Linked DNA regions of Homo sapiens: region 2 is linked to region 1. Evidence: fine-mapped expression QTL. A gene starts in region 1. The other region holds a variant in brackets. All regions are shown on one strand. Distances are from middle to middle.

Region 1 (5,389 bases):
TTGCGTATTCTACCACATCCCAATAAATAAAAGACTCAGTCAACCTATGGGGAAAATAAGCTCACTCCTTTACCACTCACCACTCTTCAATATTCTACATGAACATTAGTTATATCCTGGTGCATAAGAATTTACTGTGCATCAAAAAATAAAGTGATCCAATATTAATGTTGCTAGTGAATCAGATATAATACAGTAATAGGAATCATTGAAAGAAATGTTCCATCCATATATCTCAGTGAATATTATGCATACTTATGAGAAAACATAGAGCAAAATAATTAACATGGCAAATTTTCAACAGAAATTTTATTGATTTCTCACCAAATGCCAAGCAATGTGTCATAGAATCACAAAATGCTTGGCAAACTGATGTTACAATCATTCTAAAGTCAATTGTTTGCCAATTAATAAGATTTATTCACTACATAAGAGTACACAATTTCAAACAATAAGTATGCTAAAAGCATCCATTAAAGTCAAGTTGCAATTCTCATAGTTGCAAAAATGGCAAAGGAAATAATTATACATTGTCCCATATTCAAGTTTTCTGTGCGTTTCTGGAAAGGCACAGAAAACTTTCCCTATTTCTTAGGCTTTCTATATACTAGGTAAGAGGAAAGAACAGGCTAATAGCAATAAATAGTATCCACCTTTAAAACCTATCCTCTTCCCCAGGGTTGGTACAATAGACAATATTGATCCCTTATTTACAATCTAACTTCTACAACTTAACAGCTACAAGTTTCTTTTATGTAAATTTAAAAAACAATAATAATATTCTATGCTTTTATTTAATTATCAATATGTAAGTATGCACAAGGTCATTAGGTAAACTATATTTCTTACTATGGATCATAATAAAAAAAAGTTTGGAAGCCATAATTCAGAGAGTAAGTCTCCCTGGAGGTTTCATATTCAGTTACTAGATAGTATTGTTGGGAGAAAAAATTATATGCTACAATGTTATCTCCTTAAAAATTATTTTTAGGTTATTTCTAGAGTGGAAGGCATCAAAAAGAAGACCTGAACTTGTAAGAGACAGAAGTCATAGATGGCCCTTTAAACAATAAAATCTTCCGAGACAAACACTGCTAATGCCTTTAGGGCTGAACATCTGTGCAAGGATCTTCTTTATTTACTTTAAATAACGAGGGATCAAACCCAATTTAATCAAATCCATTCTCAATAAAAGGAGAAACATCCCTACTTCTCTCCATCAGAGAGGATGGTTGGGTTAAGTTTTCTAACAAGTAAGATATTTGTTCTTCTATTTGCTTAGCCTAGATACCTAGGATTCTCTCCAGAATATTGTCCAGCCTACGGACAACCAGGGAGCCTCAAAGATTTTGATGCATTTGTCTGAAAAAGAATGCTAGCTAATAAATAACCCCTGTGTCCCAAGGGCTTTTTCTCTGTCTAGCCATCCAGTTACTTCTATCTAATGAGGTCAGAGAACAAAGAACAATGGGAAATTTCCTCTTCCTCACTGCAAACTTGCCTCCCTCTCCCAGTCCCTGTACATTAATAAAAATTAACATTTATACAGTCTACTAGGTGCCAGACATGGTTCTGAGTGCTTCATATATATTAATTCATTCAGTCCTCATAACCAGCCTGTGAGGTAGAGAACTCTCGGTATCTCCATTTTACAGATAAGGAAACTGAGCTACATAGAGGTTAAATAAATTGCCCAAATAGTACTTACACAAATAGTAAGTAGTAGAGCCAGGGTTCTAATCTAGACAGTTTAATGTTGGAATCTATATCCTTAACCATACAGTTTTTACTCTAAATAAGGACTTATAGAATAGGCATCTCCTTGAAGGAAATGATGTTCTGGATATTAAATGATGTATGAAATACTCTATATTGTATTAATCTCCTAGCTTGGATCTTTCAAAATCTCTATATTGTTTACAGAGAAGAGATAATACCCAATCTACAGTCAAGCACCTGTTTCACCTCAGCTTAGCCATAAACTACAATACCTCTGTTACCACTGGGCAGCCTCCCTTGAGTAAAGATTCTCCATATCTGCATCTCTTAAACAAAAATAACTTGGTTCTCACCTTTCCAGGCATGAGTGGGGCAAAGCTGCAAGTCCTTTGCACATTTTGGCAGGTGGCTTAGCTCCTCCGCTTTAAGTACAACTTCTTAACAGCAGAGCCAGTCTTTGAAAACTTCAAAACTGTCTGGGATGCCTTTCCTCCTGAGGTATATATAGAAGCTCTTTCCCAGCCCTCTGTTGCTCTTCCAGCCAATCCAGAGCCTTAGAGGAAACTGCAGGCTGGAGAGCAGCAGCAGTGGGCCCTGAGGTGGAGGAGGGAATCCTTTCTCTGCTACAGGCACTACTGTGGCATAAGGCTTTCATCTGCTCTTATCACAACACTCTCTTGCTAACCGGCCAGGGCAGGGTTAGGCCCTAAACTGTGCACAGGTCATTGGTTGTTTGAACTCCTAATCTCAGGCCAATCACAAGGAAGATGTGAGCTTCCTGTGAAGCAAAGTGTCTTGGACCACTTCAGATCGGTCAAAGTCATAGATTCTTAGGACTGTAAGGGCTCCTGGAGATCGTTTAGCCCACTTTGTTTCACAGTGAAGGAAACTGAAATCTAGGGAATTCAAGGAATGTGTATGTGAATACTTACCAAGTGCCAGGCACTCAGCTGGATGCTAGGAATTCAGAGAAGAAAGAGAAAGCTCCCTGCCCTCAAGACCCCAAAACACATTATAAGTAAGTGATGGAGGCCGGGCTGGGATGTTGTGAGCCTTCAGGAAGCACCAGGCAAGGTTTTCTGGAGCTGAGAGACAAGATTACTGTTTATATAAATCAAAACAAATATGAATAATTACTATATATTCTTTATGAATCCATATGTCTGTGAAGGTACTAAAAAAGTGATCTAGGAGACCAAACACCAAAATCTTAGTAGGGATTGAGTATAATGATATTATCTCTGAACTCTGTTAATTCTGTCAGTGGTCTTCTGATTATACTTTGCTTGGATGACTAATGCTTTGTAATTCTTTGTACCTCCCCACCATAGCCATCCTTGCCTAGGCTTGTCTTTCCTTCTCCTTCAAACTTTTCCTGCTTCCTATCACTCAAGGAATATTTACCAAAATTTACCTGAATTGTGTCTTATCTTGTCGGGGCCCAAGGTGCTGATAAGTTAATCTGTAAATAAATGCCTAAAAGGTAGGCATGAGTCCAAGCTTTAAAAAAAGTGGCACTGAATAATCCGTAAGAAAAGCTCTGAATTTGGAATTGAACAGTACTCTCATAATTTTCTCTGTTATCTGAAATTAGTTGTTTTAAATGACTCCCTCTTTATATACCCTTTTTAGGCAATGGTTGATCAACCCCTGTTACTGGCTTGTAAAGTCAATGCAGTGCATTATGACCTGATGTTTTTAATGTAATAAATAGAATAGACAAATATCCAAGTGCATCGGATGTAAAAAGTATTGTTTTCTGAAATTTTGACTTTAATTATCAATATGTAAGTGTGCACAGGGTCATCAGGTAAACTATATTTCTTACTATGGATCATAATCAAAAAAGTTTGAAAGCTGTGGCTCTAAACCACACACACACACACACACACACACACACACACACAGACACACACGTTTTTGAGACAGAGTCTAGCTCTGTTACCCAGACCAGAGACTGGAGTGAAGTGGCATGATTATAGCTCACTGCATCATCAAACTCCTGGGCACAAGCGATCCTCCCACCTTAGCCTCCTAAGTAACTGGGACTAAAGACTCTTGCTACCATGCCTAGCTAGTTTTTAAATTTTTTGAATACACAGGGTCTAGTTTTGGTGTCCAGGCTGGTCTTGAACTCTTTGCTTCAAGCAATCCTCCTGCCTCAGCCTTCCAAACACTAAGCACAATGTCAGGCACATAGACATCTGTAAATACTGAATGAGTTAAACAAACTGTCCAAGTTCCGCCATCTATTGACTGAGTAAACATCAGCAAATCAATTAATTATCATTTTTGAGACATGTGGACACTGTTGTTGACTATTAAATCTAATAAAGGGAATATAAAACAAGTAGAAGAGACTCCTTGGGACAAGAGTCTAAATCATTATTTGATACCAAGGGGCCTTGAGGAGATAATAATATGAAAAGAAAAACCCCAAGTTTAACGTAGAGCAATGGAGGGTGATGTCTTGGCGAGGGCTAAAAATCAAAGCATGTTTCTGACTGTCCCAAAGGAGTTCATGTGATGGACTATTCAAGAATAAAAATTATCTCAATTTACTAAAAGATGGACTAGAACCCAAAATGTAAAATTCAATAGAAATAATGTTAAATCCAACACTTATTTGTTTTTAAAACTTTGTAAGGATGGGATAGCCAGAAAGTATGTAAAAGAGTGTGCTCTAGAGGCAGAAAGTAAAATAGTGATTGCTAGAGGTTAGAAATGGGAGAAATGGAGGAGTTCCTATTCAATAAAGTTTCAATAGGTATAAAGTTTCAGTTATGCAAAATGAAAAATTTCTAGGGATCTGCTATACAACATTGTGCCCATAGTTAGCTATACTGTACCGTACACTTAAAAATCTGTGAAGAGAATAGTTTGTGTTACGTGTTTTTTAACCACAGTAAAAAAAAAAAAAAAAAAAAAAAAGGAGAGAGCCTACTACGTAAAATAAATTTGAAGTCTGAAAAAATAAATTGAACTATTTTAAAATCTCCTTTCCCTCCTGAGAATCCCTCAGAAATGACAGTAAATATATGAAAAAGGTATAAATCTGTAATAGCAAAGAAAAAGAGAAACAAGCCATCATATTCTGAGTGATTTCAACCACTTCTTCATGGAATGTGAAAAGAGGTGAGTAGGAGTGGTACCTAATGAAACAGGGGAGGGAATTCAGGGGGGTGCTTCAAAGAGATATCCATCTGCCCTGGAGGATGCCACAGTGGTTTGGGCTCCAAAGCACTAGATATTACAGTTCTACAGAAGGAAGGAGTTAGCTGTGCAAGTGGAAGCAGTGAGAGACATTGAACATTTTCATCAGATGAAAAGGATCTCCTGCCCACACAACTGCTCTGATTCATCTCTAATTCATTTCCTTAAATCATGTGTAAGTGTCTTTATTTTAACTATTATTAGCAATATATTTATTGAGATGCATTTTATCACTTCTAATTTGGGGACCTCTTGGACTATGTGATCCATGGTGAACAGACGTCTATTCACTAATCTCGCTACTCACAGTAAGAGTCTCACCCTAAAGCCAGCTAGGAGCACATGGAGTAAACAGAGGCAAGGTCTTCACCTTCATGTTGCTTGATTTCTGTCTTTCTGCTAAATGTTTTAAACCATAAGCAAGCTCAATTTATAATTCTACCACTCAGAAATATAT
Region 2 (5,389 bases), 37 kb after region 1:
TACTAATTAAATCTTATAATTATCTACATATATCCTTGCAAATAATAACAGGAACTGCAAATAACATTATTTGGAAAGGTCCAAACACCTTAAAGAATTCAGTGTCAAAATCATATTAATTGCCACAATCTGAACAGGATAAATTAGAACAAAATCCAAATGTTTTCTTTTAACTAAAAATGAAAATTGCTGCAATATTCAAGTTCAAATTTCCAAAATGCTCCAGGAGTTGCAGAAACTCTCAGTGTTGATTGCTAAATTAAAATAAGAAACTCATGAGCTTCCACTTAGCACAGTTTGAACTTTCCTCTTAATATTCTTCCCAACTTAGCTAGACCTTCCTCCACTTTTATGGGACAATTGTAGAGCAACCTGGTGACCATGGTCCTAAAGCTTTGTAAAAACTGCAGAAAATGCAAAACGCTTGGGTGGAATATCAGGAATGAGGATTTGGGTGGAACTGAAAAAATTTTTGTTGGTAACCATGTAAATCATTTGATTCCCCTTATCCATGATCTTGATGTGGCTCCTTACATAGGTTTATCTGCTAATTAAAGTTTAGAAGAGTTTAATAAGGTCAGTAAAAATGTTGAAGGTTTTTCACCAAAGTCAATGACTCTTTTTGCCTCATTATTCAAGTGATAGGATGATGTTGCAAAAGTGGATTTGAGGTCGAAGACTGCACAAAAAAAGAAAAGTCTTGGATTATTTATGTTTAAAAATAGGAAAGATTTAATTAAAGCAACAGATAGTTCAGAACCATTGAAACTCTATCAAGACTTCATTATAGGTTCCAGGGAACATGATGCAACTACTCATGTATGTGAGCTACTGCGGTACCAAGGAGAGCACTGTCTCTGAAAGGAAATGCAGCAACGGTGAATCCCATTTCCTGTAACTGTCATGGCATCAGGAAAGTGGGGATCTCTTCAGGGAAAGAAATTGGGGCTCTATTACAACAGCTGGGAGAACAGTGGGAAAAAAGTGGTTTCCGGCTGGGCACGGTGGCTCATGCCTGTAATCCTAGCACTTTGGGAGCCCAAGGTGGGTGGATCGCCTGAGCTCAGGAGTTCGAGACCAGCCTGGGCAACACAGTGAAACCCTATCCCTACTAAAATCCAAAAAAAAAAAAAACATTAGCCAGGCGTGGTGGCCTGTGCCTGTAGTCCTAGCTGCTCAGGAGGCTGAGGCAGGAGAATTTCTAGAACCTGGGAGGCGGAGGTTGCAGTGAGCCAAGATTGCACCACTGCACTCCAGCCTGGGTGACAGAGCAAGAATCCGTCTCTTAAAAAAAAAAAAAAAAGGGTTACCAAATGGAAAAAGATTCACTTCTAAATGGCATAAAGAAGACCTAAAACTGGTGTCCATTAAAAGGCAGAACATTTTAAATAAGGCTAGTTTTTTCTTCTCCCTGTTAGTGAGATTTTGGAAATCACAGCAGAATAAAAGCCAGCTTAAAGGACCTCTTAAAGATAAAGGTCTTATTTTGTGAATTATATTTCAGGAAGTAAACTGAAATTCACCTCCTCTTGATCTGATTTATATTGCTGAAACAGTTATTTTGAAATAGTTCCAACTGAGAAAAGCATAATTGGCTTCTACAATCTTAATCTATGTAGACGTTTTTTAAAATTTAGTTTTTGCATAACATGGCACTAAGATTGATCTGAAAAAAGTGTTAACTATCTGGAAGCAAAAACGTTTATTAATTTCAATTGAGATAACTGGATTACTTTGTACAATGACTGTCTATGATGTGTTCATTCTTATCTGAATTCCAAAATAAATAAATGAGTGCCTCAAAAGAACTTGAAAAAAGGTACAACTACTTTAGAAAACTGTTTAGCAGGGTTTTTTTTTTTCATTAAAAGGAAAAAATACACCTGCCCTATGCCTCAGCAATTCCACTCTAAGTATTTACCAAAAGAAATAAAAAGATATATCAACACAGTGAGTTATATAAAATAATATCTTTATTCATTATAGTCAGAAATTAGAATCCATTCAAATGAATTCCAACAGAAAAATAGACAAATAAGTACGGAATGGTCATACATTGGAATATTAACTAATCAGCAGTTAAAAAAAAGAATAGACTAATAGTGTATGCAAAAACATAAATAAGTCTCAAAAACACAGTAAACAAACAAAGCCTTACCAAAAGAATGTATACTCTATGGTTTCATTCATATGAAGTTCTAGAATGGGTGGAACTAATTCATGGTGGGGAAAAAAAAAAAAACTAGACCATATGCATCAGGAGGCAGGGTGGAGATTGACTGGAAGTGGAAATGAAGGAACTCTTAGGGATAATTGGAAAAAAAATTTTTTAAGAGAGAGATGGAGGGTTTCACTCTCTCACCCAGGCTGCAGAGTTGTGATCACAGCTCACTGCAGCCTCAAACTCTAGGGCTCAAGTGATCCTCCCACCTTAGTCTCTCAAGTAGCTGGGACCACAGGTGCATGCCACAGCACCTGGCTAATTTTTAAACGTTTTGTTGAGACAGAGTCTTGCTATGCTGCCCAGGCTGATCTTGAACTTCTGGACTCAAGTGATCCTCCAGCCTCTGCCTTTCAAAGTGCTGAGGTTACAGGTGTGAGCCACTGCACCAGGCCAAAATAGAAATACTCTGTATCTTGTTTGAGGTCATGGTTACCTGGGTGAATATACTTGTCAAAATGTATCTAAGGCGTGTGATGGCACACGCCTATAGCCCCAGGCACCATGACTTTGTTGGTTGTTCCTCAAACCCGCCAACTACTCTCACCCAGTCTTTGTACTTGTTCTCTTTGCCTGAAACACTCTTGCCAAGATCTCTTCATGGCTTGCTTCCTTGCTTCCTTTGGGTTTCTGCTAACTTGTC[T/C]TCAGGTAAGAGACCCCTGACCACTCTCTCTGAAATTCTGTTATCTGACCTATCCCCAAAGGCTAGATGTATTTACCCTACTTTACTTTTCTTCTATAATAACTGATATTGTATTATGTGTTCATTTGATTATTTATTTTCTTCTTGGATTAGAATGTAAGTTTAATAATGGCAGATTGTTGTTGTTGTTGTTCTTAACTGTATCCCCAGTTCTTAAAATGGTGCTTGGCACAGAGCAGGTCTGGTTAAATGAATGAATGAAGACCTCTGTGGCTTATTTGAAATATATTATCTTCTGGTCTGAACATAGCTGGGAGATTCTCTTCCATTGCTCTAAACTCTTGTTATGTATAGTTGCATTTTGTCTCTCTCTAGAAGGGCCTCCCCTACCTGAAGAAACTTGGAGTAAAATATTTTCTTGTGATAAAATTGTTTTTCCACCCCATGTTTCAGACTATGGTTATTCTGGTTTACGGTTTCCTTCCAGATAGGTATGGATCACACTTATGCAACCCACGGTCGTTTATTCTCACATTATCTGATTTCCAAACCAGCTTAATTCAGATCATTAAGTTGCTGATCCAATTCATTCTTTAAATTAAAATGACTGAAATGATCAGGCTGACCAGACTTTGGTATGGCCATTCCATTCTTAAATGTTTAGTTTAAGATAGAGAACAGTGACATACACAGATATTCGTGTATAAAAATAAGATAAAAATATTTAAAATAGAAAAAGACACAATATTTTCACTGGAGACGAAGTGTTGGCCAGTGGCTGTAAGTGATGGAGAGCTGTGGTTGACTTCCTGGGGATATAATCAGTCTTTGTTAGGAAAATGAATGGCTACATAAGTACAGTACTTGTATTAAGTATTCTATGCTCAAGATTGAACTAGATTAATTGTCCGTAGAGTATTAATCTCAAGCACCTCAGGCTACTTCTTCACATTTCACAGCTAGCACTGGAATAAAGGAAGTGAGACCTTGAATTAAACCTCTTCATTTTATAGAAAGATCTTTCTTGAAAATAATAACTTGTTTTTAAAATTTTTCATTCATGTCTTATAGATGAGATCTATAAAAGTTTTGACGTAAACATCTGAGTTAGTGGCTCCTTGAGGATAGAGAGATAATGGATCAAACATGGCATATTTTTTAAATATGTCAGAAAAATATTTACATTTTGGCCATTTCATAGCATAGGTACATTCTTTGCACTGGTGGAATGAAGTAGTTATAAAAATAAATAACATTGGTGAATATTTGCTTCAAGTTAACCAACATTTTCTGAGCATGTGTTAAGCATTATGCAAGAAACTGTAAATACCAAATAAACCAGGTGTTCTCATGCTTGAAAGGAGCACAGGTGGAAGAGAGTTGTGAGATAAGATAGAAGCATACACAAATGAGTATTATGCTCTAAGGCAAACTTTGAAACACACCATAATCAAATGTAATATTCAATGAGAAAATAAGGCAGATTCTGTTCTTAAGTGTTTTCATCTGGGGCTTAAAAGATGTTTAAGACTTAGGACAAGTATTGAATGTCAGGCAGAAGGGACAGCATAAAAAAGGTGCACAGTCAGGAAATTGTGTGTATATTGGTGGGAATGATGGTAGCCTACTATGAGAAGAGCTTAGAATTGGAGGGAAGATGTGATGAAATATAGGATCGGAAAGTTCAGCAGGGGAAATGTTGACAGAGGGCTGAGGAATTTAGGCTTCATTACATTTTCTATAGGGAACCTCTAACGTTTTCTGAGGGCAGTAGTGACATGATCAGATCTGTTTAAAATAAAGTTACTTCTGCAAAGCAGTATTCGTTAGACTGTGGGGAAGAGAGAATAAAAGGAGTTTCTATAACTGCAACTCACCGTGAGTGGTAATAGTTTTACTATGTGTTTGCAAACATTCTACACTCAGAAGTTCAAAGATACATTTGTATAGGTGTCTTTATACATAGAAGGAGGCATTTACTGCCCATCAATGATAGACTGGATAAAGAAAATGTGGTGCATATACACTATGGAATACTATGTAGCCATAAAAATGAATGAGTTCATGTCCTTTGCAGGGACATGGATGAAGCTGGAAACCATCATCCTCAGCAAACTAACACAGGAACAGAAAACCAAACACCGCATGTTCTCACTCATAAGTGGGAGATGAACAGTGAGAACACACGGACACAGGGAGGGGAACATCACACACTGGGACCCGTCAGGGGTTGGGAGTAAAGGGGAGGGAGAGCATTAGAACAAATACTTAATGCATGCAGGGCTTAAAACCTAGATGACAGGCCGGGCGCGGTGGCTCACATCTGTAATCCCAGCACTCTGGGAGGCCGAGCGGGGTGGATCACGAGATCAGGAGATCGAGACCATCCTGGCTAACACAGTGAAACCCTGTCTCTACTAAAAATACAAAAAATTAGCCGGGCTTGGTGGCGGGCGCCTGTAGTCCCAGCTACTCGGGAGGCTGAGGCAGGAGAATGGCGTGAACCCGGGAGGCGGAGCTTGCAG

The links. PIP is the estimated chance that this variant, and not a neighbour inherited with it, causes the effect.
Region 2: its variant is the best candidate, but not a certain one, in a credible set for the expression of RGS5 in whole blood (TOPMed, PIP 0.88).

What each region holds. Positions count from the first base shown.
Region 1 is chr1:163,200,720-163,206,108 of GRCh38, forward strand. It overlaps RGS5 (regulator of G protein signaling 5), which reads right to left and starts at 2,197. Exons shown (of 5, transcript NM_003617.4): 1 at 2,073-2,197. The coding sequence starts at 2,116. The region is part of intron 2 of RGS5-AS1 (RGS5 antisense RNA 1); the gene reads left to right. RefSeq lists an enhancer at 2,261-2,926.
Region 2 is chr1:163,238,201-163,243,589 of GRCh38, forward strand. It overlaps a transcript of RGS5 not described here and the pseudogene TRNT1P1. Among named protein-coding and RNA genes, the nearest start is that of RGS5, 38 kb to the left of the region's middle. The variant T/C (reference allele first, on the strand shown) is at 2,865.